2 separate regions of the Homo sapiens genome follow, and region 2 is linked to region 1. Evidence: fine-mapped QTL for protein levels in blood plasma. A gene starts in region 1. The other region holds a variant in brackets. All regions are shown on one strand. Distances are from middle to middle. Region 1 holds the start of UNC5C (unc-5 netrin receptor C). Region 2 has its middle 57 kb from the start of UNC5C-AS1.

What was found. PIP is the posterior inclusion probability: the model's chance that the variant is causal. Protein levels are from the aptamer-based SomaScan assay of Sun 2018.
Region 2: its variant is fine-mapped to the plasma level of the UNC5C protein (Sun 2018, PIP 0.95).

The regions. Positions count from the first base shown.
Region 1 is chr4:95,541,157-95,557,208 of GRCh38, reverse strand. It overlaps UNC5C (unc-5 netrin receptor C), which reads left to right and starts at 8,236. Exons shown (of 16, transcript NM_003728.4): 1 at 8,236-8,475. The coding sequence starts at 8,352. It overlaps UNC5C-AS1 (UNC5C antisense RNA 1), which reads right to left and starts at 8,061. Exons shown (of 5, transcript NR_183914.1): 1 at 7,978-8,061; 2 at 2,150-2,288; 3 at 1,516-1,616. RefSeq lists an enhancer at 7,665-7,794.
Region 2 is chr4:95,598,577-95,614,628 of GRCh38, reverse strand. No RefSeq gene overlaps it. Among named protein-coding and RNA genes, the nearest start is that of UNC5C-AS1, 57 kb to the right of the region's middle. The variant A/G (reference allele first, on the strand shown) is at 8,248.

The DNA.
Region 1 (16,052 bases):
ACAAAACAACGTGTTTGATTAATGAGTGTTCAAAAATGTTAACAATTATAATTTATATAATGATAATGATAAGAGCATTAAGCATGATGCTTTCTGGCCTCCAACCTAAGTCACTCAGTATTTGCTATTCCTGTGCTCCTTTTGCCTGCCGTGGCTCCAGTTCTTTCTTCTCCCCAACTCAGCAAAAGCAAATTCTATTTATCCTTCAAGACCTGGGTCTAATGTGCTTTCACTTAAGATCTCACTGATTCCTCAATGTGAAGTAAGTGTCCTTTCCTCTCATCTCCCATAGTGATGTTTCTATAACTCTCTCACCGCACTTTTCAGAGTCAGCCTATTTAGTTCTATAGTCTGTCTTATTTTCTATTAGCTTAGTAATACTATCAGGGAGATTGTCATTTTATTTATCTTGAGCTTAATCTGAGGACACGATTTCTCACACTAGGCACATTAGACACCTCTTGCTGCAACAGTGCTGCATAAAAAATTAACCCTGAACTCGGTAGCTGAACACAAGCACCTTTTTTTTCTTGCTCATGAGTCATTTGGTCTGATGCAACTCAGGCTCTGGGCTCCACACAGCAAGCACAAGGCTCCAGGCTGCCCATCTCTCCATGTGTCTCTTATCCACCTTGGTTTGGTGGTTACCTGGAAAATGTTCTAATGCCTTAGGACTAATGGTGAGAGCACATGAAAATGAGTAGAGGTATGCAATGGGAGCAACTGGCACACTGTAGCACCTGCCCAAGATCACTGGCCAAAGCAAGTCCCATGGCTAAGCTACCATCAGTGAGAGAGGAAGCCAGTACGACCCACAGTGCAGTGGGTGGTCCTGCAAGGCATAGTGCAAAGGAAATAATCGGGTAATTCTATTAACTGGAAAGGAGTAAAGAATAAAGAATACTGCAACCTATCATCCTCTGTTCATTCTAGAACTGCTTTTTTAAGGACAGGAGTTCCCTGTAATGGTCTTTGGAAAAGCAGGTCTGGGGCAGTGAGGAATCATTGAATAAGATTTTAGGACAGTAAAATGACAGGTTTTACATTTTAGAAGGTCTTTCTGGGAGGTGTGGAGAGCATGGATTAGAATGTAAAGGCAAACTAGCTACTAAGGAAATAATTACAAGACCTCTCGGTAACAAGCAAATATATTGTGAGTCTGTAGGGCTGGTGATAATGGGATAGATCCTGTAGCCCTTTAAGTAGTGAAATTGAATGGACTTATAAAATAGTAATTGAATAGGTGATGTGGGCAAAGGAGGGAGATACTGAGAATAGCTCCAGAGGTTATACTAGGGTGGTATCATTCATGTATAGAAAGCCACATCACTAATACTATTCTTCAGATGATTATGTAAATTAAGTACAATAGACAATGTAAAGCATATCTTACCATAATGACATCTTCAGTATAGACATATTACAAAGCACTTTCACACAGATTTTATAGTCACAGGAACTTTGTGCATTCATATTGTTATCATTTCTTATAACAAATACGTGCAAAGAACTTACAGGGATTTCTGAGCAAATAACTTAGATAAATGGAGACTTAAATTCATGTTTCCTGATCCGGAGTCTTCCCACCATTCCATTATGTATTTTATTTCTTCCATCTGTAAAATGAGAAAAACGACTATGGTCTAACTTGGCAGATAAATTTAAAATAAAATGAGATATTAGAAAAGCTCTGGTAAGCAATAATTATAATCTCTATCCCCAGTAATACTCTTCTAAATTAGATATTCTATTATTTTCCTTAAGTTTTTATTGACCTTTTCATTGTTTGCTCCCTCTAATAGCAGTTACAACATGCTACACCAATGCAGAAATCACACTGGATTTTATTTATCTCTTCCTTTATTTCTTCTTTTTGTCTTTCTTCTTTCCCTTTCTTCCTTTGTCCCCTGCATCCTTTCTTCTTTTCTCCCTTTCCTTTCTTTTTTCTCCATCTTTCCTGGTATCTTTCTTTATTTTTTGCTTTGCTTCTTTTTTATAAATATTATTTCTACAGTCCAACTATAAACTCCATGAAACTCTACCTCAATGCTACACAATTTCCAAAAGTTCAGTAAATACACTTTAGTGAACTGAATAATGGAGTCCTTTCCATCTTTCTATTTCCCAATGTGATAGAAAACACACTCACCCTTCCCCTGTTTTGGAGACTCCAGAGACTGAGGCAAGAGGATCACTTGAGGCCAGGAGTTCAAGGCTGTCGTGCCCTATAATTGCACCTGTGAATAGCCAGTGAACTCCAGCCTGGGCAACATAGCAAGACTCCATCTCTAAAAAAAGAAAAAAGAAAAAAGAAAACACTTTCCTCCCTTTTCTCCTTTTTTTCTCAACCAACTATAGAACTATTTTTCATTTACCTGTAATTCTTCAAATACACCCTCAAATGCCCTGTCTTAATGTCTTTCTTTCTGTGCCTTCCCCTTGTTGCTCCTCTCCAACAGAGTTGTGTCCAACTCAGATGATCTGGCCAACATGCACAACACCCTTCTCCTTATCCACCATTTGTGATTGATCTTAGGGGGCTATTTGACAGACCGTCAAGGAAATGGAAACTACTTGGGCTGAGGGCTTCCAGAAAAGTTATTTGGAAGGCATCTAGGCTAGATGCAGCCCCTCAGGACTGTTCCACCTTCTTCTGCCTGAAAAGTGAAACATGACTCCTGGAGGTGGAAAAGCTATCAAGCAACTGTGAGAATGAAAGCTGTACATTCTGGAGCATGGAGCCAAGACATGAAAAGAGCATAACTGAGCTTCCACAGTGGCCATGTACTGTCTACTCCCAGGTTCCTTATCGTTAGAGATAAATACACCCATTGTGTGAAGAACAGTATTGCTGATACACAAGTGTGTGTCTTACTTTTAGGTAAATCTTCTTCTCAGGCTCCCATATCCTTATATTCCCACAACATTTTTGTGTTTATTTAAAATCCTTTTGTTTATTCATTTATATTGCCTGTAAGATTCTGAGCCATTGCTACACAAGGACTATACCTCATGCATATTTTTCCCTAGGGATCCTAGAGTGGAACCACAATATAACAGGGGGGAAGTGAAAGTTTTCTGAATTGAATTGGATTTAATTCTTCCAGTCAGTTAATGGGAAAAGCAATCCACAGGGGGCTGGCTGCTCTTCAGCCTTTCTTAACTAGTGCTCTTCTTTTGCTACAGTGATGTGTTGTTGCACAAAAGCCTGGAGAACTCATCTTGCCTCATATACCACAGAATAGGGATTTGTTATTTTGTCTGCCCTACATCCATTCTCTTTGGCATCTTTTTTTTTTTTTGTATTAATCATTTTCTATTGTATCCTTTTGGAGAACCCCTTATCCCCATTTTCAATCCAAGTTTCCAGTTGGCAAATATTGGCACATGACCAGGCCTTGCCATTCAGTATATGCCAAACATCTGGCCATGGTAATTGCCTCAGTTGTGAGTATGTGGCCCAAGATAGGCCAGGGCCATAATTCTGTATTTATTTTTTGCCATTTGGAAACGAGTGTGCTTTGTGTTGAGATTGACAATGATAAAGACAATGTAAACCTGGAGCTGCTGGGAATCCCAGGATGGAGATCATAAGTCTGTGAATGAAACCAAAACAGAGGAGAGCATAACCAAGATATTGAGGGTGGGGGGAAGTACTAAGTCCCATGAGTGATATTTAAATTCATGGGTCTAAGACATCATCCCTCAAATCAGACTGTCGCTAGTAAATACTAACTGTGTGTGACCTTGGGCAAAGTTACATAACCACTCTGTTTCCTCATTTATGAAACGGAGATAATAATGGCACTTTCATTCAGTTATGATGATTAAATGAGATAGCACATGTAAAGAGCTTAGAAAGTGCCTGACACACAGTGAGTGATAGTAAATGGTATCTATTATTAAATAGATATTTCTTATCCATAGTTTTTGAGTTATGCACAGTGATAAATTATCTTTTTGCTTAAGCTGGTTCGAGTTGGGTTTCTTTCACTTGCAACCAAATGGGTCTTATCTAATAGAATTAATAAAAAGCAGAAAGCCCTAGAGAGTTTTGGTTTATGACAAGTTAAATCTCTTTCTCTGGGCTAAGGCAGGGAAGGAGGATTGAATCAACTGAATCTAGACCATCTGGCTCTCCTTCGTTGATGTCTATCAGTAACATTATGTGAGGTCTCTGAACTCCCAACTTGTAGGAAAGGAGTTTTCCTCATCACCATCCTATTTATTCACTAAAATCCTCTTTCTCCTATGTTGCCAGTTAATGCAGTTAATAATATCCCTGGTATGAAGATTTATTTTTAAACCTACACAAAAAATATAAAAAGTGAGGAATCAAACATATAAGGAGAGAGATACAATGAAAGAAAATATTTCCATAATTAAAATATATGATCAATTGTTTTTGATTTAAGCTTTAAACTGGAAACTTTTTCAGTACTAGTTCCGAGTAAATGATATTATTATGAAGCAGCCTACATGCTAAATAGCATACTTTTCTTGGTGTAGATTTCTGGAGGGATATGCAGGGGATTTGCATGCTTAATTCCCATTAGCACCTGTCACTGGGATTTATTATCCTAGAGTTAATTCTCCACTCACTGCAGCCAAGAAAAAGAAAGCCCTTGTATATGGATTTAAATGAAGCTTTTCATTTTTCAAGATGAGATGAATTTCCTGTCTGTTCCTTAAACACCTGCAGTATTCCAACCCTAAAAAGTCAAATTCCAATAAATTTTTGGTGAAAATTTGGCAAAACTTGATTTTATTCAACAACTAGAAAAGCCTACTCATAATTTGATAACTTGAGAGGCTGAAGAGGAGAGGAAGAAGGTTTAATGAAGGACTTAGCTCAATTTTAAATCCATTGGTTCTGATTCAATCCATTCAATATTCAGTAAGTATTTATTGATCACCTATTATGTACAAGGTATTGTTCCAGGTTCTGGGTATAGAGCACTGAATGTATTAGAAAAAAATTTCTCCCCTGAGAAGCATACATTTTATTGCAGACTGCATATATATATACATGTATACACACACACACACACAAATATATATATACACATATATGTACATATATAAAGTAAGTGTTATATGCAAAATCAAAGCTGGCAAATGATATTTTGGATGATAGATTGTTGCTATTTTAGGTAACTTGATCAGTGAATGCCTCCCTAAGCAGTGTCATTTGAACCCAGATCTCGATGACTTTAGTAAACCTATTCTCAGGAGCCTATAAAACACTATTATTTCTCTCATGAGGAAAAAATGTGATGATCAACAAAAGTAGTCAGGATGTTAATTCACAAGACAAGTTCCATCTGTACTTGTAGAGAGCAGGAAACTTGCCTGCTGTGTAAAGCTGATGTATTGCTGGTGTTTTTCCTGTCCTTTGTGTGGTGCTCTCACTCTCTTCCCCCTTTTCCACCTCATTACTCTATACCACTTCTCAAACCATTCTCCTGCCATCTTTAGGCTGAATTTCAGTATTTAACTACATTTCCTCTTTTAATCTCGTATTCTTTATTTTAAGGAACTAATTGCATGTGGTATCTGTCACTGAGTACCTCAATACCCCAAACAGGAGTAGGCGACAATTTCAACCTTCTTTAGCTGTCCTAGACTTTGAGGAGTCTTCCCCATTGAGCTTTTTTGGCAGGAAATCAGTCAATATTGATTGAGTACCAACTATATATCAGGCTCAGTTTAGGAGCTGTGGTTGAAATAATGAACAAAGGCAAAATCTCTGTCTTAAAAGAGTTAAATTCTAATTTAAGAAGACAGGCAATAAAATTGTAAATAAATAACTTTTGGATGTCGTTGATGTGATGGTGAGTATGTGTGGAGATTTCTTAGTACTTAAGCTGTTGTCCTTCTTAGTAAAATTGTACATATAAATATAAAGTATAATAATAATCCCTTGTGAAGTCATTCTCAAAATACTTGACAAGTTATTAGTGGCCTCGATACACCATAAAATATGGTAGCTGCTGGCCACATGTGACTATTTAAATTAAAATTAAATAAAAATTTCCAATTCACACTAGCCACATTGCATGCAAGTAGCCACATGTATCTCATAACTACGACCTCAGAAAGTACAGATATGAACATGTTCTTCATTGCAGAAATTTCTGCTGAACAGCACTGGTGTAGATAGCATGAGGCTAATGGGAATTTTTCATCAATGGTAAGAACAGCAGTTTACAATTTTGGCGTCAGGCATTTTACATATGTTTAACTTACATAATCCTCAAATAACCCTATGAGATAGTTCCTGTTACTAGACCCATCTTACAAATTAGGGAAGAGAGGCACCTAGCTTTAATGTTCAATATCAGTCAAGTAATAAGAAATGCTAAGAACTGAAGGCAGACAGTCTGGTGCCAGCACCCACCCTGTTGTCAAATATCTTGATGTCTTGGTATGGAGAAGATGAAGAGAGTGAAGAAGGGTTTTGTGTGGTGGACAGAGTCTCCACAGAAATAAGAAGTGGCCAGTTTTGTCAATGTCTTTGGCAAATACTACCTTTTCGGATCTCCCTGATTCATCCGAGATAGGTCTTATTGCCTAGATGGGGCTGTGCAGGCAGAATCATAGAATGTTAGAACTTAAGAGAACTTTGAAACTATCAAAATATTTCACAAATGAAGAAACTGAGACATTCACAGGTTACCTGACTTACCCAGGGTAACAGAGTAGTTATGACCACAGCCAAAATTAGACCTCATGTTTCCTGCGTGTGTGTGTGCATGCGTGTTTACACATGGCCCCCTTGGCACCAAGAGCATAAAATTCCCTGATGTATTATTAGTTTAAAGACATGCTAATCTTGGGAAGTGATTTTCTTTTTCCCAAAATGTTGTCTGTGTCTGTGTGTTGACCTTTTAATAAATTCACTTTCCTTTTGTCTAGTCTTATTTTACCCACCCAATCTTGCATCCCTCCATCATGACCACAGGGATTCACAACCCAGCTACGTAGACAATTATTTCCTGTAGAAAGGTAAACAAATTCATAGCAGCTCGAGTTCTTACACACACTATTAGAAATTTGAAAAACATGTTATAGGCTCCACCATCACTTTGAGTATCTACAAATTTTGCTTTGCATTTTTTTTTTCTAAGAGAGTTTCTCTCGGTATCGCATCACCACCCTTGTCAGCCACCAACATGCACGCAAAGAAAGCACTGTTGCAGAATGAGTTTCCGTCGAGCTTTTAGTTTCTGTTCCACTGCAAAGGGGTCATACGCGCTCAGAACATAAAGCAGTCTGACTGGCGCTGACAACCCCAGGACAGCAGCCGGCTGGGGCAGTGCAAAAGCTTCATGCCTTCTTCCCCAACCAAGAAGGACTTCAGTTCGAGCCCGCACCGGCTTCGTCAACCGCGAGACCCGAAGTCGTAGACCGAGTCCAGTCCTAGGGAATTCGGCTGAGGCTTTGCCGGCGCGGCGAAGAAGGTGGCAGGCGGCAGGCTGAGCTCCACTGGACACAGCCTAGTGGCCCGGGGCGCGCCCGCTGCACTCCCGGCGTCCAGGTCTGGCGCACCGCGGGAGGCAGGCGCGCTGCCACTCTCCGCAGCCGCTTCGTCCCCTGGTCTGTCTCGCCTCGGCTTCAGCGGGCAAACCCACAGCTGGTCTCCTGGGCGCTGATCTCCCTGCAATCCTTGCTTACATAAGGCGGGCGGGCGTGCTCCCGCCCCCGGTTACCCCCCAGAGGAGTTGTGCTGCGCCCTCTACGCCTCCTTGGCGAGCGCCTTCGCGCACCCGTGCGCCCTACTCTAGGATGTGAACCTCCTTGGCCACCCAGCAGCGACAGCCGGGACATCTCTCCGCCGGCGTGAGAACACTGAGATTGGAGACCAGAGCGCCTGACGGTGCCCAAGCTTCCTCCCTCCGTTCCCTCCTCCTCCAACTCCCCCCACTTCAACCCCCACCCCCACCCCCACCCCCGGTGTCTGTGTGTGTTCCTCACAGGCGAGGGGACCCGGAGAGCAGTCCAGACTTCGGCGTGCGGCGGAGCTGCGGCTGCTCCTGCTGCTGGGGGGAGCGGCGGAGGTGGCCGCCTTGCGCCTCCCTGGACTTCCCAAGTGGGGGCAGAGCAGTCGCTCGCGGGAGACGTCAGTTAGAAGGCATTGGGAAAGAGGGACCTTCAAACTCCTCCTCGGCGTCTCCTCTCCTCCCCCTTTTGGCCCCTGCCTTTGGAGAAAGTGGAGTGTGGCGCTTGGTTGTCGTTATTTCTTCGGACTGCTTCGCGGTGCACGGATTCAGCTTCTGCCCAGTGGGGCTTTCAGCTGTTTGCGCGTCTCTCTGTCCCCCTCCCCTCCCCCCGGCACACCTCTGTCTACGATGAGGAAAGGTCTGCGGGCGACAGCGGCCCGCTGCGGACTGGGACTGGGATACTTGCTGCAAATGCTCGTGCTACCTGCCCTGGCCCTGCTCAGCGCCAGCGGCACTGGCTCCGCCGCCCAAGGTAAGGGGGTCCGCCAAGCTCCGCGGCCACCTCCCTTAGCTTCTTCCTTCCCTCCTTCCTCTCCTCCTCCCCAGTTCTCTTGACTTCCTCAATTTGCCTCGTTGCTTTCAACTGGAAACCACTCTAAATTCCACTTTCCCAACTAGTCAAGAAGCTTTGATTATAATAATAATAATTATTATTATTATTATGTTTAATCTATCTTCTGAGATGGGCACGAATGGACCAGGGACGAACGGGGTGTGGACACGCAGCCGATCCGTCTCCATACGTGTGGGAGCCTGGAGTGTCTTGTGCCCTTTCAGCTCCGCACGCGCACGTTGTTGCATATTGCACACACGGAGGTTTGGAAAGACTCTCGGTGCGGGTGGCTGTGTGACATACCGTAGATGCACCCCGAAGCGCATGATGCGCAGAGGCTCCCCGCGCTGTGCCAAGACTGGGGTAGCAGGATCTTCACTGAGTCTCTGAGCACACTAGACCCCGAAGGGCGCTCAGCTAAGGAAATGTGTCCATTACTGTCAAGGACTCAAAAGCACCCGTCCCCCTCGCCTGCTGCTTCAGGTGCTGTGGAAATACACAGCTCACCCGAATCCGCGTACCCGGCTGGAGGCAGGCCCGGGATGTGCATGCCTCTGCACTCATACATACCCCGCTTCATGCCTGCTTCCCACCAGGGGATGTAGAAATGAAAATCCCGGAGCTCTGGGGGAACCGGCTGCTTGTTCAAACCAAATCCGAAACTCCCCGGGGTAGTCGACCAGTTTATAACTCTGACATTTTAATTTAACGCCTGTGAACTTTAACATAAGTGACCGGGGCCCTGGGCGAAGCCGGGTTGGGAAGAGTGTGGCCGGGAGTTGGGGATGGGTAAGGGAGGAGGGGAGGCTCCGGAGCTGATCGCCCGGCTCCCTTCTTGTCCGCCTAGTTTGAAGTGTTAGCAGCAGCTCCCAGCCTTCAAAGCCGGGAAAGCTGACTGGAAGGGAGCGCAGAAGAAAGAGCCAAGGCTGTCCCCTCCGGGGTCTCTTTCAGGTCACCTGGGCCCCAAAACTTCTGGCCAAGCCCAGCTCCTACTTGGGTCTCTTAGCCCACTTCAGTGGTGATAGCCGGCTCAGGCGAGGCAGCTCAGCTTTTCCTGGAAGAGGAGAGAATGAAGGAAGCTTATGCAGCATTCAGAGGCAATTCAGGGATTCTCCCTTCACTCTCGGTTACTCTTCCTTCCAAATTTGGAGAGTAAAGGGAGGCTTTACGATAGCCCCAACTCCCCAGGTGATGTTCAGACACCCTAGGGTTTCCGGACAGCATTCCCTCTGATCTTAGAGAGGCGCTGGGGGTGGGGATGGGGGTGTTGGAAGCGGAGGAGAGCGCCTAGCATAGGAGTGCGGTCTGGGTGGAGAGGTAAGTGATTAGCAAGGCTTTGTGAATTAGCGATAGCTTCTTCGGAAGTAAATTTTCCTGCTGCCCTGCTAAGTGGCCCTGCTCATAAATCCTTCCTTCCTTTCTCGCCAGATGCCTCCCATCCCTGAGGTTCTGCTCTGGTTTTCTTATGCACACCTCCAGAGTTCATCTGTCTGTCTATTTAAAAAGGAATCTCCACCGAGAATCATAGCTTGTGGATTTCCTAAAATTGATAAGAAGTTCTCAGGGCGCTAGCCAAGGGTGCTTAGAGGGGGGTGTTTGGAAGCTTAAGTGAACAACCTTATGAATAGTCGTGGAATCAACCGCGCGACTCCCTGTGGAATTCGCCTGCTGTTACTGGGCATACAAAGGACTGAGCCATGGGGGTGGGTGGCGGGAGAGGGGGACGGGGCACGGTGAGAGAACTGTTTGGGAAAAAGACAAGTTAAAGTCCCCAAAGATGCCAAACAAGAGATAGGATTCCTGCTAAGAGCTTACAATAACCAAATTAAAAAGACTGGGTAGAAAAAGGATCAATAAAGATAATCAAACAGCAGATTGTAAATGGATTAATATTGAAAGAAGAAGGGAGAAGAGATTAAAAAGAAAAGATGCTTAGGATAGACTTTTTCTCTTGCACTTTTTGTAGCGTAGGCAAGTTAAAGATTGGGGACTGATTCTCATCTTAAGTGGAAAAAGAAAATGTACTCCGTTGGGTGTATGCATTTCACTGCAGTTCTTGTCCATTTCGTTTATTTAGTTCCTTCAGTTTTTGATTAGTAAAATTTTTGTTTGAATCTCATGGTCTGTAAAATGCACTATTCCACCGCTTTTATCTTTGTTATCCTCCATGTTCCAGGGATAGCAGCTCTTCCTGTGTTGTCTGTTAGTTATCAAAGGAAGGATAAAGCACCAAACTCCACTATCAGCTACTACCTTCATCACTGCAGTACAGTAACCCAGCCTGTTTATCTTGAGCCACCGTTAACACTTTCCTTGCAGAATCACACATTTTATAAATGGTCTGATAGTCAGACCTCCTTTTCCTTCTTATTCTTCTTCTTTCTCCTTTCCTTGGACTAGAACACTAGCCCATACCCTCAAGGTATGATTTCCTTGTGGTGATGACTTAAAGATCCAAATGAACTATTTCTTATGAATGAAAGTCCAAGAGCAATTAACATGGGAAAGTTACTTTAAGCACTTTACAATGTGGATGAGGTTTTTATTCTGTTGCTGAAGTACTGCAAAAATTAGAAGTATGTATATATATCTTCAGAGATAATCAAGGAAACAACAGATATTTAAGATAAAACATAGAATAGGCATTATTTGTGAGTGTACTGAGTTTTGTAACTGTGGTTTAGGCAGCAGTCATTTTCAATAGGTCCTTGGGAAATTCTCTAGGCTGTAGGCAACAACTTTCTCCTTTCTGGCTATGCCCTAATTGTTTCATTCAGGATTGCTGGGAACTCCTAGCTCCAGGGAATTTGTAGTGTTTGTGACTTCCAAGAATGAAAGATTTTACTAGTAAAAGGCAGTGTGTGTGTGTGTGTGTGTGTGCGCGCGCGCGCGTGTGTGTGAGATCAGTGTGCTTCTGAATTAGGACCCTCCTGGTTTATAAATGCATTTTATCTGGGCTACACAGCATTGATATGCTGCTTATCTAGCTCCAACTAGTGTTATGAGTGTTAACACCACCAAACTCAGGACAAAAAATTACTGAAGTCTCTAATTAGATTGGGATAATTCCCTATTATCTTAATTCATAGTTTTTTTTTTTAAATAACATATGTCTTCCTACAAAAGAGTAAAAATTCCTTTATGCATGTTTGCATATTGGTGTGGTACAAATAGACAGTCAACAGTGAAGACAACTAAAGTTCATTACAATTCTATCGTATACTTTTTCATTGTAGGAGTACAGAAAGTTTATGAATTCACATTAGGAATATGCAATAAGGAAAAGTAGGCTAGTTTACTTCTGTTTAGAAAAATAATTTTGTGTATTCTAGCTTAGAGAATGCTTAAAATCTTCAAAGAATAAACTTTTCAAACACTTGCAAAGAATTAGGAATCATTAGATTATAACTGACATTTATTGACTCCCTGGACTCCTGTATTCTGGATACTGAGGGTAAAGAGTTAAATAAGACAGGGTCCTCGAACACCTCCTATTGTAGTTTGGAGCTGGTTGTCCTAGTCAGAACTTGTATGGGTCTATTTTAAGCAACCCCCCCTAAGGACATGAACAAGGCATGAGCTCTGCTAAGTAAACCCTGTTAGCTTATTTAGAATTATTGTTGAGACTTAAACATAACTGTTCTCTAATGTATGCTAGGTTCTCCAATTAGTGCCAACAGCAAGTGTGCTCTATTAGGCCTTAACTGCGTTTAACACTTTTCTGATTTAGGTCATGGCTTTGCAGAAGCAGCAGAGGGAGTCACTCTCAGAAGAAACATTAAAATTACAGGCTGCAACCACTTTAGGAAGATAATGGGGAAAATTGTGGGGGTTGAGATTGAGCCAGTGCTATTGCCTTGAAGTTTTAGCCTACATATTTTTTTAGTTTGACTTTTATATTTGTGGCAGTTAAAAACAAACCTGTTCACATTTCCTCACAAATTAGAAACAATGGCTTCTATGGATAGAGTATGGTATTAGAAGTAAAGTTCTTAAGCAATTATTGTGCACTCATATTGCATCCTAGGCTGAATGCTATTTGTTAGAAACGGAATGTAACCAGGCAGTTTAAGCCCTACAGGAAGACAGAAGTAGAACCATGGAATTATAATTCACTTTCTTAAGTATAAAAGCGGACACAGGTATAGTACTTTCTGGATTCAGACATCCGAAGATAGTAAACATAGGTGAAGCTAGGATTCTAATGTGAGTGGTGGGTGGGGGGTTCTAAAATTTCTACACAGAAGAACGTGGGAGCAGTGATTTGGCTGGAAGTTGTATGTTCTTGAAGCTAAGTTTGCGTTGCAACAGCATTTTACTTAGATTTAATGCAAGTTTCATCTGGCTCTGGGGAGGCACAGGCTAAGAGCTGTTAATGGTGTATGCCCATTCTGTCAGTTAACATAGTGATTACCAATGTTTCCTAATACTGCTTCCAGCACCTCCAGCTGTGTGACTATGAGCAAGACATTTAACGTTTCCGTGCCTTAGTTTCCTCATATGTAAAAATGAGGATAATATATACTACAGGTTACAATTAGAGCAGCTTTTAGCTCATAGAAAATAAGTATTATTCCTTGACTTTCAATTCTACAAACCGTTGGCAAAGAAATCTAGATGTAAAAGAAACTAAAGGTCAATAATTTTGAACTCAGAGTGATGATAGCTGCTGACACTGCTTCCCCAAAAGCAAGAAATGGAGCTATCTGAAGAGATGCTGCGGAGTAGATCATTGTAAACTCCTGGACAGAGTACAGTTCTCTGAACAGCCTGTGGGAATCTCATTCCCTTCCACAGTCTCTTTTCTTCCCTTCTGTTCTCTCTGGGAAAATTAACCTAATATTAGTTCTAAAAATGACACGTTAAGTCACTCCCAGTTAAGTCCTTGCAAGAAGCTCGTCCTTGACTTTCTATTTTCTCAAGGGATACTGAAAGATAACTTTTCATAAATCCATGAACACTATTACAGAAAAAAGGTACACCCCAGGATTTCTGATAAGGGTTTGGGGAAAATCAGACCTTTATGTGAATGTGGACAGTTTTTCTTTAAAAGAAAATGGACACAAGTATATACTCTAAAGAACATAATTGGTTTTCTGTTCAAACAAAATAAACATAAAAATAGGTCAACACGAAGGCAAAGAAAATTCACCAGAACTTTCATTTATTCAAACTATATTTGCAATAGGAAGTTTCGTTATCCTAATTTAAAACAGCACAGATAATCTAGATGACATATATTTTGGTGAAATATTTGCATCTAACTCTTATTGTTTAATGGTTATTGCCATTCTTTGCATGTTTGGAGCAAATGTTTTCTGTCAGACTTTTGAGATAAAATAAGAGATTTGTAGGGCATTTTATATTACTTACGGTTTAGATTTTTCTCCTACAAAATTGTCATTCTGCTTCTATTATTGGTTCTGGTTCTGCACTCTTTCTTTTTTAACCTGATTTCTTAAACCTATGTATGGATGCTTCTTTGGTTTCATTTCTTACTTGGATTTGTTATTGCTTATGTATTTGTGGAGGAGGGCTACATGAATATGAGACCTTTGGTATTATTCCAGTATCTCTTAGCTCAAGGATGTTTTACTCACAGAAACTTGGTGCTGTTTTTTAATGCTACTTTGAAGTAGAGTAAGTTTGCCTTGAGCGATATTCAAACACTAGTGTTTCCCTTTTTTCTAGTTTTAAAAAAAGAAACTTAGTAATGGGATAATTTATAGTTTCTCTTATTTTAAATATTTGTTATTTTCAAACTTACAGAGATTTTAATAAAAACATTTTATAGGAACACTTTTATGAGCTAACAAGATCAGAAATAGAAAACTTTTTTTTTTATCCTGTCTACCTGTATGGAGCCACCAGAAGAATTTCTGCCTTTTCATGAAAACCCAAAACATATATCATGTTGCAGATATTTGGACTCTTTATGAACAATATGTTTGAAAATATTGAGCTGAAATTTCAGAATTAAAAAAATAGTTTTGTGTTGAAGTTGTACTGTGGTTTTTTGTTTTGAGCATTGCTGCTCCCCAAAATGTTGCTCATATATAATGAGATTTTGAAATACACAGAAGAATGTTTCCAGATTTTATAAGTATTTAAAACATACCTCCCCTTCTACATGGAGTACATAGTGTTAAAGTTGCCATGACATTAATTAAGTTGAAGTTACAATTTAGAAAGTGAGCTATAGCTTTGAAAGTGCCAAATATGCAGATATTTGTCCTTAGGTCAGTATAGCTTTTATTAGCAATGAGCAGTGATTCAAAAGTGCCTTGTGTGGCAAAAGTGAAGTATAACATCTGAAAATCCCCATGTTTGGTGAATACCCTCTTTTAGTTAAATAACTAAACACATCTTATTGCCAACGTGGTAGTGGAATGTGAGCGTGAGGGGAGCCGGGTGAAACTTCATTATATAGATATGCCTGTTAGAGTTCTTATTTTAAATACCAGGGCTCACAATAATCATATTAACAGATGATATTGATTACTCAGATTTAACACCAGAGTTACCAGTCTTACTTATTTTAAAATGTTGTGAGGATAGGGGGTTTTATCTTCATTAATCATGTTGTCATGTGGATCCTGTGGCTAGTTTCATTTCTCAGCAATTATGAGAGCTATAAAAATGCCTCATGTAGATGACCATGGATTATATCCTCTTCTAACTGACGATGTGAAACAACAGAAACTCCCTCAGCACACTTAACAAGTTCATTGATGCATGCTAGTATTTCTCAGTTTTAGTCAATCTCTTAATTGATTATTTAATCATGGACTGCCTGAACTCTATTCTTATTTATTGTTTTCTCTCTTTTTATTTCTGTTCAGAAGAACCACCTTATATGTGGATATTTCTTTCCAATAAAAACAGAATAGTGCTTGTTTATTAAAATGCATCTACAGTCCAGTTGTAAGGGATATATCCATAAATAGAAATATATCCATAAATAGAAATGCAGGTTTTCTCAAAATTAAAAAAACTTAGAGTATATAATAATATAAAATATAAATATGTAGTACAGAAGTAAAGCACAGCATTTGTAGATAAAAGTGATCATTTTAAATTAATTCATAAAATACATTCTCTTAGATAATAGAAGTTTAGTGCAATCTAATGGGGTACGTGATATAAAAGTATCCACTTATAATTACAAGTAAAAGAAATTCATGTGCAGCAGTCCTTCCTTAAATGCAGGAGATACTTTCCAAGACCCCCAATGGATGCCTGAAACTACAGATAGTATGGAACTCCCATCTACACTGCTTTTTTTTCATCTGATAACCGAGATAACTACTAAGTGACTACCAGGTGGGGAGTCTATACAGCATGGGTACATTGGATGAAGGAGTGATTCATGTCTGAGAGATTTTGTCACGCTACTCAGAGCTCCATGCAGTTTAAAACTTACGAATTGTTTGTTTCTGAAATTTTCCATTTAATGTTTTTGGACCACAGTTGACCTCAGGTAATTGAAACTGCAG
Region 2 (16,052 bases), 57 kb before region 1:
TAATTTTCTTCTCTAGAAAAAAACTCTGTGGAGATAATGAAAATAATCCACAAAAGTAACCTGCCACTCATTAAATCCACTGTCAGCAAGAATCTCTACTCTCATTATGTCATTTAATCCTTAAACAACTAACTCTGTGTTGTAGGTACTGATATCCTGATTTTACAAGTGAGAAAATGAAAACATAGAGAAATGTTTACTTACCTAAGATTATAAAGTTAATAACTGATAAAAATGTCATTCCAAAGCCCAGGCTTGTGTGGTATCAGATCAACATTTTCAACCAGCATATTATCTGGCTAGAATTTAATGCCAAAACACTGACCGCAGTTAAGAGGGCATAAGAAAAGTTTTATAATTTCTATGAAAATACATTAAATGCATGTAACTGACAATACATAATAATACAAAAATTAGTACTTTAGGATTTTGTCTCCTATTTTCCTGACATTAGCAAATGATTTACACACTAAAGAGAACACTCCCCACATTCATTTCCTGAAACTGATGAGTTTAGTTCCTAGATTTATAATTTTATATGTCTTTCTTAACAGATGAAATTTCTAAATTTCATTTATATCAGTATAATCTCCAATGCCTGGAATAAATAAATGTCTCAGTTTGGGAATGAAATTTATTTATTTTAAGTTGGAGCTTAATTGTTGTTTTCAAAGAAATGTCATGAACTGGAATATAGGGTAGGGAACTCGGTAAAAAGATAGGTGATAGGCTTCCAATATAAGATGAATCCATTGCGTTCAGACCACCAGTGTCATTCAAGGGACTGCATAAGTGACAGAATTTGTAAAACACCTATTTTTCTTTTAATTTGTTTGATTGTGAGCCAGGCAAACATATTTTTTGATATATAGGTGAGTCAGATAGAATATTTGGATACTCCTTAGGGTTAGTACCAAAATGAAAGAATGCAATACCTATCCCTTCTAAGAGAGGGTCAGTGTTAGCCCTTATCGCATTGCTGAATATCAAGCTCTAACGTGGCAAGTCAAATTTCCATGTTTAGAATTTAAATAGCACTGTCAATCATTACTTTTTAAAAAAATTTGTGAAGCACACCAACAGAAATGCAACAACATCCGCAATTTTCTGCTGTATTTGGGGGTGTTGCTGAAGGAGGGAACTTATGTTTGCAAATGACACATGCTCTGTCTCCACTTAAGTTCTTTCATGCCTCTACTAGGAACCTGACTGCTCCCATCCATCTTGAGAATAAAGGCTATATTATGGTCTATTCGATGTATGAATAGTGTTTATCAACAAAAGATTGAAAATTACGCTTTGCAATTATTCTGTGAATTTTTTATGTTGGCTTCATAATTATCAAGCTTATTTAATCATTCTGACATAATCAAATGGTAAAGAAGATATATGACTGTACTAAAGTTCTAATATTGTGTTTTTAAATTTAAAAAAGCTCTCGGCTGGGCGCGGTGGCTCAAGCCTGTAATCCCAGCACTTTGGGAGGCCGAGGTGGGTGGATCACGAGGTCAGGAGATCGAGACCATCCGGGCTAACACGGTGAAACCCCGTCTCTACTAAAAATACAAAAAAAAATTAGCTGAGCGTGGTGGCGGGCCCCTGTAGTCCCAGCTACTCGGGAGGCTGAGGCAGGAGAATGGTGTGAACCCGGGAGGCGGAGCTTGCAGTGAGCCGAGATCGCGCCACTGCACTCCAGCCTGGGTGACACAGCGAGACTCCATCTCAAAGAAAAAAAAAAAAAGCTCTAAAAGGAATGTTGGCTTATTCTGTATCAGTGGCCTATTATATTAATAAAGATGTTTAAATTTCCTTTGGATTATATTTCATTAAAGTAGATATTATACAGAAAAAAATAATTACTTTGGTAAAATGCCTGGAAAGTATTTATGTATGTTTGCTCTAGCGTAGTGTGTATGCCCAGTTTCATGTTACTGTTTCTTAATGGACTTAATCTCTTGTAGTCTTTTTATTAATTAATATATTTTAATTCTATTTGACTAAGCTACCATATAAAATGTTGATATATTAAGGATTAATAATGAATAGGTTATTAATCTCGAAGTTCAGTATATAATTAAAAAGGGAATAAAATATAAAGTTTGAAAATAAAAATTATTTTAAATCCTTTAAAATGTATCCATGTATATTTAAATAAAATGAATGTATACATGTAAAATAATTCTGGGACTAGAAGAGTGTAGGGACCACCGAGTTCTGACATGAAGTGAGGCTTTAAGATAAATGTTTGGGATTGTTGAAGGCAGAAGGAAAGGGCACCATAACATGACAAGCTTTTGGTGATCAGGCCACACTCCCTGCCAGGACTTCTTGTCTGTGGGATGAAGACATTCAGCTTTACAGAAAAACTCAAAGACTCTATTTTGTCCACTTTCTAAAACTGGATATTTGAGAATCAGGGAATCCTATTTAACTTCCTGCTGCCTCCATGATGTGGAAATAAAGAGAATAGAAGACCTCCGTATTGATGAGGCCCACGAGCTTAATTTGAACAGGGCAGATCCACTGGGTTTCCAGGATGTGCATATGTGATTGAGGTGACAAGAGTGAACTCAAGTTTTCATAATTTTAGGGGTAGATTTTTAACTCTTTTTCCATAGTAAGAAGGACCTTGGGGTTCCTAGTGAAACTTTAAAATTATCTGCTCTACTGAAGGCCAGGGCCAATGGGAATATAACTGTATCAGAGGTTTTCAGAGGCTTTGATTCCTGGAGCATACTGATCAATTGCAATGGAAGCCCTTGAGGAAGATATAAATCCCAGGAATTACATACTGAGTGGATTACAAAGCAAAAACTTTGTGAAAACTGCAAATGTGTGATGCTGCTTTGAAAAACGGGTCAATGAAAGACAGCTGGAAGACCAGTTTTCTAGCCTTGTTTACATCATGGAAATGTAAAGAAATAAAACCTTCTGGGAGAAAGAATAAAACACGAAAAAAGAAGAGTTTGGGAAAGAGAGATTAATGCTTAGGAAGCAAACCAAACAAAGTCCAGGAAAATAATCACATAAGTTATAGAGCCTTAAAAATAAAACCTAGGAAACACTGCAGTACCTCAATATGCTAAGGGTAACAGGTAGTATCCTCAGGCCGCAGACAAGAGGGGCTCCTGCTCTGTTTCTTATGCTTTATAGGGTCCCACATTATCATACACACATGCGTGCATGTGTGTGCTTGCACAAATGGATTCAAACACACATAGGCAACTCCTTACTTTGATCTTACACTCAGCACTAACAGAATATGACCATTAAGACACCACAGAAAATGCTTCTCCACATTTCTGGTCCTATGAGTTCAAGTAGGTCACTGAGTAGGAAAGCCATGAAGGCTTGCAGGTTGTGCTGCTGCAAATGTAAGAGAAGAGCATGGTTCCTAGTGAGAGGGATTTGAGTGTGTGAAATTGCTCCAGGAATAAAAATGACAAATTAATTTTCTTGTCAAACCTTTTCTCCCAGGTACCATGAAGAACTGAATTCCAGTGTAACAAAGTATCAGTCTCATTAGTGCCAAGCATTGATTTTTATTGTTTTGCTTTGTGTTCCCAATAATGCCCCTAGAGGTACTCTTGAGTTTGAGTGGTATTTACAATAGTTGCACATGATGGCTGAAAAACATTTTGTAACATTAGACAATTCAGATTCCTCTTGACTATGCATATGCTTAGGTCTACACATAACCAGATGGGCTTGAGTGTTAGAATTCAAACATTCAAACATTGTAATTTTTTAAAATCAGATTTTATTTTTTAAATATAAAATTATCACATTTACTTATATAATTTTCAGTTTAAATATATTTACTAATTTTAATTTGTATTTTCTTTTAATTTTAATATATGATTTGAATATTTTCAAAGAATATGTTTTTATTTGTATTCAATTTAATAGCACAGTACTCAGGGTCCAGTCAGGAAAACAGAATCCACACCAGTTATCTTTACAAAAGGAATTTAATATGAGAAATTTGTTAAATAGGTTTTAGGGGACTGAAAGGGGAAAAATATAACACTGAGTAATATAAAGTTAGCAACTGCTGAAAGAAGCTACCACTCTTTGAGTGGGGTGAACAAAACGAAAAGATTCGGTTTTTAGAACCTAGAAGTTTATGTGTAGCCCTACAGAGCTGAGACCCAAACCTTTTAAAGAATAATACTAACCAGACAGTGCTGGTACCTCAGGGGCCTGGAAAAACATCCTCACGCAGCTGGAACTAGTAGCTAAGGAAGCTATGCCAACTTTCTGATACTGGTATCTCTTTGGGGACATAATGAGGCTGGTTCTGAAATATGAAACCAAACAAACAAAAACAGGAAACTGAAAGCAACAACCATTGTCAGGATAAAGAAACATTGCCAAAGGGACTCTAACAAGAATGGGAAGTAAAGTCATAGGGAAACAAGCCCTTCTTTCTACTGTCTTTCCTCCTTAAAAATTAATCAAAGAAATTTCTGTGTAAATCTTCAGTAACCTAAAGACTAAACTGCAAGATTAAACAACAATCCTTGAAGAAAGCAATAAAGTGGCATGCATATGTAACAAGCAAGGGAAAAGATGCCCAGAGTTTAAATCCCTCATGCCTATAATACAATTGACCAGGAGTCCCTAATTACTTTTCTTACATTATCCATTTTATGTTACCTTTGCCCTCAACGAGAACCTCGGCTGGTTGGGGTTCTTTATCTTACAGGAGGAACCAAAACTTCATTCCTAAAGAGTCTGAAACCCTAGTGTTTCTTACCTGTTTGTTTACCTTGCTGTAGCTGTTCATTAAATTTTACTATCAGATATGGAAATATTAAAAGGGACCCCAGGGAAACCACTAGGTTCTAGCCATAGTCCACCACAGCCTCATTATGAAGGAGGATCTCAATTTCTTCTTGATAATTACCACAGCCATTAGAGAGCCTTTACCAAGCCTTTCTTGCCTATTGGTTCAATAGCATAAAAATTCCAATATACATGTAGCAGTCCAATTCAGCGGAATTCTTCTCATGACCACTGTCATGCATTACTCCTTTGAATATTAATGCTCTAAAGCAATGTAACTCTTAAGTTGCAAGGACTGGAAGCAAAAAAAATAATCCTGTGGGTGAGTTATTAAATGTATTAGTGAGAAGAGCCATTCCCATGTCTACCCCTGAAGCCCAGAAATTACACAGTGAATTGGTCACTGATTCAAGCATAAACTACATTGTTTCAGAGTACTGTCTCCCAACTAGTGTAATTGAGTGTTATTAGGAAAACATCTTAATTTACCAACACATAGATGAAATATAATTTTAATTTTTGACATATTATGTTTAGTATACATTTTTGATGAAAATATATTCCATTTTGAACTCTTTAACTGTAATTACACTTTATTTCATAAAACCTTAGATTATGTTGATTGCATAATCATAATTTCATTCTAGAAATAAAATATGTTTGAATGGAGCTCAACAAAAGATCCTAAAAAGAAAAGAAAAAAAAAAACAGAAAATCTGCAAAGAGTTGATCTTCTTATGCTTTACATATGCTAACAAGTAATGCCAGCTACTCGAGAGGCCAAAGTAGGATGCTCACTTGAGCCCAGGAGTTGGTAGCCAGCCTGGGCAACATAGTGATACTCACCTAAAAAAAAAAAAAAGGTGTAGAAAGCTAACAATAAAAGTGAATAGATGACATGCAAAATACACAAGTGAGATATTAAAAATACTTAATGATGCTTTAGTTACTAATAAAAACATAAAACAGTACAAATATCATTTAATTATCAACTTAAATTGATGAGATGAAATAAGACATATTATTTAATGTATGTTATAATTAGTAATTAAAGCAACAGAAATATAAAAGAGAACTACCCATATCAAATCCATGATTCACAACTAACAAATGTAACTCTGGACTGCCTGTTAGAAAATGAAGAGAATTATATTCATGCTGTTGGTAAATTGAACAAGGGAAAAAACAAAGGTTCTTGATGATTAACTATGTTTATTGGGTGGTATTTCTGGAAAGTGGTGATCATCATTTTGAGAGCATGAGAATATCTCTAACAAAACATAGTGCTAGTCAAATTTATTAATACAATTTTCCTTTCTATTATCCTGGCAGAATATTTATACTTATATTTATTCTATACCAAAAATTATTTCAAATATAGAAAGAGACTTTAGAAATGGGCTATTTTAAAATTGTGATAAAATATACATAATGCATATAAAATTTACTGTTTTATCAATTTTTTTTTTTTTTTTGAGACAGAGTCTTGCTCTGTTGCCCAGGCTGGAGTGCGGTGGCATGATCTCAGCTCACTACAAGCTCCGCCTCCCGGGTTCACACCATTCTCCTGCCTCAGCCTCCCAAGTAGCTGGGACTACAGGTGCCCGCCACCTTGCCCGGCTAATTTTTTGTATTTTTAGTAGAGATGGGGTTTCACTGTGTTAGCCCAGATGGTCTTGATCTCCTGACCTCATGATCCTCCAGCCTCGGCCTCCCAAAGTGCTGGGATTACAGGTGTGAGTCACCGCGCCCCGCCCATTTTATCAATTTTTAAGTGTACAGCCTAGTGGCATTATAAACATTCACATTGTTGTACAATCATTACCACTTTCCATCTCTAGAACTTTTTCAACTTTTTCACTATTTCAAAATGAAACTCTTTACTCATTAAACAATAACTCCCCATTCTCCACTCCCCCTAGAGAAATGTTCCTTTATATTCCAAATGCAAAAGCAAAGTATTTAGTTTCTACTATTAGATTTTTCACAACCAATCTTCAAGATCGACTTTGGACTTCATTTGTGTATTAGTCCATTTTCACACTGCTGTGAAGAATAACCAGGGACTGATTAATTTTTAAAGGAAAGAGGTTTAATTGACTCACAGTTCCACATGGCTGGGGAGGCCTCAGGAAATTAACTTAAAATCATGGCAGAAGGTAAAATGGAAGCAAGGCACACCTTCTCAGGGCAGCAGTAGACGGAGAAAGATTGCAGAGGAAGTACCACACTTTTAAACCATCAGATCTCATAAAAACTCACTCACTATCATGAGAACAGCATGGGAGAAACTACCCCCATAATTCGATCACCTCTCACCAGGTCCATCCCTCAACATGTGGGGATTACAATTCGGGATGAGATTTTGGGTGGGGACACAGAGCCAAATCATACCAATTTATGATGGGAAATATTCGAATTAGCAAATGAAAGACCAAAGTAGGAAACATCACTTGCACAGAAACACACACATACAAACAATTACTAGAACCAGGGGCGAAAAGAGTGAGAAAAACAATAGGAAATCAATAATATTCAACACAGATGAGTAAATGCCAATATAGAACACTTGTCTCATGCAACCAGAAGCACCTTTCAGGAGCAAAAAGATACCTGGGCTTCTGTTCTTTATGCTTGTACTCTAGGCACCTACATCAGTGTCAAGCTAAAATTTTGTTTCTAAACCATGTTATGTAAAAGTGCACGTATTTAATCTCTTTCTTCGGGATAATAGGAATTCTCACTTAGAGTGTCTATAGTTTACTCGAAAAAGGTAATAAGAGACCATTCAGTACTCAGAAACTGCAGAGTTAAAAAATAAAAGAAGTTTCTATTTGGAAACAGAGTTCCATTGCTCACATTGTGAAAGCCACTCTCCTGTGAGCCTGTGGTTCCTAACCACCATGTGGCCTGGCTGGCCGTCGGGGTGCTCACCCACGTTTGTGTGAACATGTGCATTCTCCATTTCCTCCTTTCCCATGGGCCCAGGACGTACATTGGCATATTAAATAATACATATGCCATAAAAATCACACAACTAAAGAATTCTTGGTGTTCAAATCTGCAGAGAAGTATCTGGTCTTTGAATAACAAAACCAAAGTTTGCTAGCCCACAATGCTTAGTTATTTTCTGTTTCTATTTTAGGTATAATTCCTCCCATTTTAAAAGAGCATTTTTTTTAACTTATGCGTGTGTTCCCTTTTGTGAAGAGTGAGAGAAGGTATTTCTTTTAACATAGCAGTTAAAAAAAAAACATGTGGCTGGGCGCGGTGGCTCACGCTTATAATCCCAGCATTTTGGGAGGCCGAGGCAGGCAGATCACGAGGTCAGGAGATCGAGACCAACCTGGCTAACATGGTGAAACCCCGTCTCTATTAAAAATAACAAAAAAATTAGCCGGGCGCGGTGGCGGGTGCCTGTAGTCCCAGCTACTCGGGAGGCTGAGGCAGGAGAATGGC[A/G]TGAACCCCGGAGGCGGAGCTTACAGTGAGCCAAGAATGCGCCACTGCACTCCAGCCTGGGCGACAGAGCAAGACTCACTCTCAAAAAATAAAAAAAGTTACCTGTATTATTTTGGTGTGTTTTTTTTTTTTTGTTTGTTTGTTTTTGCTTTTTCTACCTTTTTCCATTTCATGGAAGAACGCTGTTAGCATAAAAACCAGGAGCTAGTGGGTAGTGACCCAGTGAGGTGGGTTGTCAGCCACAGATAAAAAGGCAAATACATTTAAAAGGCCATTTGCTTTCAATGACTTATTAGGTAAGAGATTTAAGCCCTTGAGTTTCCCCTACCCCCACCCCGAGGGCATTGTCTTTTACTCTGAAAGAAAAGAGAAAGGAAACAATTTTTCTTTTTTTTAGAGAATGCCAAACATAAAGTAATTTTTAAATTTATTATATTCTTAAAGGTTGCAAAAATGGATGGCATAAAGAACTGATAAATCTATCACTCAGTTTTGCCCTCTAAGTGACTCTAAGCGATTTAGATGAGGTGCACATTGAAATGGGAGAAACGTCAAATTGAGCTCGGATACCTTTGTCACTCACCTGGCAAAATTAGCTTAATTTTGTATGAAACAAAGTTTTGGGAACTGCTTTCGCTATTAACATTTTATGTTTAGACATGGGTAGGAAACTTTTATTTGCATGACTAGAGCCAAACAAACTTTTATATTATTCAGGAAAAAAGATACAGGCACAACCAAAGGAAAAATTCAAAGGATGTTACCAGGAAAAAGAAGGGGAAGGAATAGTCTCACAGTGATGTTAAAAGACACATGATTTTCAAAATGGAGAAATATGCACTTCTCAAGCTATCTATGACAAAGAAGAAGGAGAACGGACAGCCCTAACTCCATCAAGTTCAAAAAGTAGGGCTCTGTTGTCATTCTGGAGCCTTGACTCCTTATGGTTGGGGACCAGGTTAGGAATTTCTTTCTCTTTTCAGGTAGCTGGAAGTGGACTCCAGTAAAGCTGACAGAGAGGCCATAAAGACCTGCACTCTTCTAGGCCACTTTCCAGATGGAGGAAAGAACAAAAAAGAAAAAAAAAAGCAGAAAATCATTTTCACCACATTCAAATGTATAAGTAGAGCCTCAATTCCCATAAAGGCTCTCCTTATACATTTTATTTATAAATCATATTAATCCTTGGAAGCCAATAAGAGGCCAACTAATGCACAAGAAATGCTCCTTTATAGTATAAATGGATGACACCTAAAACTCTGTACAGTGCTGTAAGTTAAACACATGGACTGGGAATCAGCTTCTAGCATTAAAATGTTAAATTCAGCGGCATAACTTATATATACATACACACACGTGTGTGTGTGTGTGTCTAATGCTTTAATCAACCAATCATACTGGAGCAATACTAAAAAAGAAAATACAAGCCAGGTGCGTTGGCTCACACCTGTAATACCAGCACTTTGGGAGGCCGAGGCAGGTGGATCATCTGAGGTCAGGAGTTCGAGAGCAGCCTGGCCAACATAATGAAACCCCATCTTTACTAAAAATACAAAAATTAACCAGGCATGGTGGTGCGTGCCTATAACCCCAGCTACTCGGGAGGCTGAGGCAGGAGAATCACTTGAACCCGGGAGGTGGAGGTTGCAGTGAGCCGAGATTGCACCGCTGCACTCCAGCCTGGGTGAAAGAGCTAGACTCCGTCTTAAAAAAAAGAAAGTACAGAGCTATGCGCAGGTCATTTGTAAATGTCAACACAAGTTCATCACCTTAAAGAATTTTCCATTTCTTTTTCCTGTCTACCATTGCAGCCAAATAGTTCTGTATAATCTCATCTAATCATCAGTAAATTATATCTAAAGAGGCCAGCCATGCGCAGATTTCATTTCACCTACACTCTAATTTTACTCTCCTGTAGTATCCTTTCTTAAATTAAACCAGGTAGTTTAGAAAGGTATTTGAAACTATATTTGGAGTTAGTAAAAGAGCAAGAAAAAGGGCAGGACATTCTTGTTGTTCTCAGGGATACGAAACATGAACCAATATAAAACCAAGAATCCAGACTTCTGTGAAACTCCTCTAGAAAGGCGGTGATATATGGAGCATTAAAGGTAGTAACACAGTAATTATATTTCTGTAGTAAATAGCAATGGTTACATAATCATTGCAGTCATTTAGAACATGTTGAATGTATCAAAAGAGCCATGTGCATTTGTGTATGGATTTTCTGGTATGTATATAATTTCCAGTGTTTTTATTCAAAAGTTTGCATTTGAATCAAAAAGAACTATTTAACAAATTGTATTGCTTTCCTGTGAATTCCCAGGCACTTAACTGTTCTACTGGTGATACAGCCATGTACAAGCAGGCTTAAAATCCCTGCCCCTATTAAACTAAAATTCTGTTGCAGTTTTTATTCTCCAGTTTGGGTCAATGTTCATCTTCCAAATTGTGAATGGTAAATAGAAGTAGAAGAGAAAATATAATTAAGAAGCACCTTTAAAAATCATGTAGTTGTACTATAGTCCACTCATTTTAACTTGGGGAGTATAACTGCATAAATATTAAGACATATGAGGATCATCTAATATCAGAACAACTAAACATCAGTCTATGATAAAATTCAGCACGGCTCCGAGCTATAATAATCTGTAGATCATTGGTGATATCCAAGTTTAAGAGTTCTGGGGAGAACAGCCTCCAGCAAATCTTATGAGAAAGCTGAATATTTTTAAGAGTTGATTTTGGCTCTTTGTACAAGTTGAACTCTAATATCCTCAGGCGGCTCACTACTAACCTAACCACAGCTGTCACCCTTCAAGATTTGGCCACTTAAGATTATACCCATAAAAATACAGCCATCGAACAAGGAAATCCAATTCTCCAACCAAGATATAAACTGGATTTTCCTTTAGATAACTAAATAAAACTCAGTGAAAATCAGTTATAGATTGTTGGCCAGAGAGGTGGGACCCAAGGGCCCTACTTTCCACCAAACCTATATAGGTCAACCCTGTAGCTGCCTGCCTGTCTGCCTTGGTTACTACTGAGGGCAAAGATGGGGCTTTATGATAACCATTTGGGGGTTGCCTGATATAAAAGAAGAAAGTAATAAAACATGGACTTTATGACAACCTTTTGATTCTCAAATAGGGATCAGGTGCCAATCACAAGTAAATCTGAAGATGTCATTTCATGTAGCTTTCTCCATTGATTTTGCAAGTTTTAGAGTCTTACTACCACTTGTTGCCTCCTTCAATGAAAGGCCACTCCACGTGGAGTGGAGATAAGACAGCCTGGGACTTCCCAAAGGTCAAAGCCTTCTGGAACTTATTTCCATGAATTTTGGAAGCCTCTGGGCTCTCCAAACTCAAACTTTGTGACGCAGATGCTTTATGTTGTGGATATGAGCTGATGACAACAGTGAACTCAATGAAATCGAGCCACAAAACTTAAAAAGAGAATATGACAGGTCATGCTGATTGAAATTTATTCAAATATTCCAGCCTGATACAAATTCCATTTTCAGTGATGTACATATAGAAAGGCCACTTGTCATAAAAGCCAGATCTAGTATTTAATATCTCTTTTCCCTCTAATTTTTATTTTTTGGAGATGATACAATTAAACACACACACACACACACACACACACACACACACAACTTGTGTATAAGCATTGTATCACCCCTGAACCTTTTTTCCCCACATAAAATAAACTCAATGTCTTTTTCTCATACTCTTTCAAGAATTTTCATTAATTATATTTTGTTAATAAGTAACTCAATAATTTGTATTTGGAAATATTTAACTCTTATATTAAAATTGTTCAGAGGGAAATGTATTTCATAGACAAGATGAAATTTCCCCCATCACAACGTTATGAAAACTGAATTTCCTCTGTTTCACATTAATTTCTATACCTTCCTAATTTTGTTTAATATTGATAGCACTTCCACTACACCTGCTACTCAGGCTGAAAACTTCAGGGATTGCAGAATGATGTCTTGTTTCTCTATTCTCCCTTCTTTCCTTTCTATTTCCCCCAAACTTTCATCTGTATATCATTACTAAATATTAGGTAAAATATTCTCCTTCCTCTCTAAATTCCTTCCCAAGCTTCATCCTAACCCCAGTTGTTTGGACTTCTATACTGTGACTTACATTTAGTGCACATCCCCTTGTCACTGCCTTATTCTATGTGAGTGCTTGTTACAAAGATGGAACTTAGTCCTTTAATCCAACTCACTTATCCCTTCCTGGAAGCCAAATTTCCAGTCAACCTCTGCATGGTTTATACCTCAAAGATAAATTTTAGGTCCTCTGATTCTTAGGAATTGAACGGGAAGCATTTGGGCTTGACCCTCAATTGACGTAAGAAGTGGCACCAGTCTCAGCTCTTTAATGTTAAGCCATGCTCCCTAGTGCATTCCTCCAGGGGTTATTTCCCTCCCCATGCACCCCTCCCAACATGTGCTAAGTGCTTCTCTACAAGCCCCTTAGATTCTGGGTTTAGCATCCTGAATTTGCAATCCTGGATATGCTGCTCACTAGATTTGTGAACCTAGGCAAAGTGATCAGCATCTCTGGGCCCCGGTTTCCTACCTGTAAAAAAGGAAACACGGATAGCACTTCTTTCATACAGTTGTGAGAACTGAGTTAGCAGAAAGTTCTTAGAACGATGCCTGGAATCTGAAAAGCACCAAGAATATTTTCCATTATTTTATTTGAAGGATACATAAATTGGAAACATCTCAAGATTCTTTTTCAGTTGGGCACTCTAGTTCCTCTTTAGTGGTTTCTTCTCATGTGTAGTTTCCTGCCTATCCTCTCTCACCCCTTAAACTCAAGCACTATTCATCACTTTAACATACTGAAATGCACCTGCTCCAGGAAATATTTCTATACATACCATATATCCCTCCTATTACTTTGTTATTCTTAGTCCTAATTCAGGCAGGTGCATGCGCACGCATGCATGTGTCTGTGTGTGTACATCACATATACGTACACATACATATATAATTCATTGGCATAATTTTAAACAAGTATTACAACTGTCCTAAAATTACCCACATATTGGTTGCTCATCTCCTCAATTAGATTTTAAACTCTCTATCCGCTCATTTTTCCTATCTAGTCCAGGACTGTAGCAATAGCATACTAATTCATTTTTAAAACTCTTCCTTATTATGTGCCAGGTACAATTACATGGGACATTACGCTTAATCCTCACAATGACCCATGAGGTGAATATTATTACCCCCACATTGATGAGCAAACTGAAACCTTGAGACTACATAATCTGCTCAGGCAGGACTTAAATCTGAGCTTTCCAGGCTCTTAATAATTTTCTTTCCTACAGCGAGTTTACCTACAGTACTTAGAAAGCACTTATAGAGAAAAGAAGTGACTAATCTGAATGCTGTCATGAAGTAACATGATCTTCTCTTAGACAAGTCCAGAGAATTAAATTTTAAAAGTTTCTGTACTTATAGGAGTATAAGTTTTAAAGTCTGACTGACTTATGGTCAATACTTGGCTGCAACAATTCCTGATGGCATGAGCTTAGGCAAGTAATCTAATCCCTCTAAGACTTGGTTTCCTCATTGATAAAACAGGATACTATCAACCTCAAAACACTTTTTAGGAATCAAATGGACAAAACCATACAACGCACATAGCTTAACTCTTTAAAACAACTCAACACAAGTGTGGAAAAAAATTCCATGGAACACTTAAAGGTGGACTGATGTTTGAGATGAAAAACAAAACAAATATCAGAAGTATTTGGAGAAGCCGAAGTGGGATGACATGGAGGGTAGGGGATGTGGGCGAATTTGACGTAATTAAGTCTTTATCGCATAAACCTAGTTCTGCCTTTATATTTAAAAATTAACATGGTTTATCATTTGTTTCAATTTTCTCAAGTATGTAAAGTGTAAGGAAATCTAAGGATTCATTATACAGTTTTGGTTCTGTAGAGTTGTCATGGAAATACTCTATTTTGTTTATCTTACTTATTTATATATTCTTCCTCTCCACATACACAGATAGCTTGTCTCTGAAAGGCAACCAGTTTCACAATTCAAACGAAAAGATCTCCTCCCACCTCCTGGAAGTAGAGATGATCGAGCTTGGGTTTCAGTATGACGGCTCATACTGAAGAAAGGAAACCAAAACAACAAATTAAAAATCATGAGAAAGCAAAGAAATTCTAAGTTCCTCTTACATTTATAAACCTACTTCTGAATATCCTCAAACGACTTTCTTAAAACTGAATTCATTCTAACGCTATGAGTCATTAATGTGGTAAAATAGTAGAAAACAAATTTCAAAGTGACATAATCTCATAATCTTTCCTTGTCAGACTCCCATGTCATCTCCTAATTGTTACTGTATACAATCTACACTGGAGAAGGGATGGCATGAGTAGGTGACCAAAAGGATGCACCTTCTAGTGCCTTCCTAGGCGATCGGGCAAGTGGACTTCTGCATGTATGCCATGAAGAGTATTTTATATACAAATGATGATCACAGTAAACTGACTGATAGAGATAATTTTGACATGTTTTATTTTAATCAATAGTAAGGTTATTAATTAGCTATCTTTCACAATAGAGAGCTTTGGCCTCACAGACTTGTATCATCAGTTCCATGTATCTTCACTTTCTCAAGAGTCCTGAGCATCCCCAAATCAAAAACGAAATTATCTTTGGCAAGAGTAATATGCTGTTCAAAAAAGGATAATGCTTGATACAAGTTCTTGGTCATCTAAAGTTTAATATTAAATCTTGCCCTTATCAAAATATTAATACTGCTTCACAGAATAAACATGGTCTTATTACCCACAAAGGGAAATTTCTTTTTATTTTTTTCAACCCACTGTAGCAATACTGCTATTCTTAAAGATTGTGCTCAAATTTGTAATATAATATTCTTATCTCCTTTCATCATACTGCAATATATTTTTTCATGTGGATAAGACTTATAGGACTACAGTGTCTCTCTCTTAGTTGCCATATTCAGAAAAAGAGTATTTTGATAGCTTTCAATATTCTAAAAGTTTAGTGCAGGTGTCAAATTTAATTAAAATAAGTGTGTATAAGTAAAAGTTGTAGAAAATCAGGCTGAATATAATATATTGATACTGGATCTTCTATTTAAAAGGTCATTTTCAACTTAAAATAGAGATGCTGAAAAATCCAATTTTCTGATACCTACTAATTTTCCTGCAATTTTCTTCTTAAAAATTCAATGAAGATGGCAATCTTATCAACTGAGTATATTTTTATTGAATATATTTTTGCATATTCTTGCATATGTATGTATGAATGTACATATTTAACACGTCACACATTTACTTCTAGTAGAGTGCCTGACATATATGAGTGGCTAAATAATATTAAATAATTTTAAATACTGGAATTTAGATCTTTAGGGTGAGGGAGGAGCATCTAATAATGTTTTCCTTAAATAAAAATATTTAATTATACAGTGAAAGTGGGCCATGAAAATGTCTTAAAAATTCTATCTAGTTGACAGGACATATTTTTCAATATTATTTAAAGAAGAAAATATTGGAAAAAAGTTCTGTGCAGCTCAAATATTTAGATAAATCTATAGAGTGAACTTTAATAATTAAATATAGCCTAGTGGATAGTTAATATAAAGCATGATGCAGTGCACACTTTTATATCTTAATATTTTTTCTTTTATGTTTGCATTGCTCTTCTAACATAGTCCATGCCTATATTAAACATTAGATACCAGAAAAGTATCTGTTTTGAATAGAGAGGCTTTAAA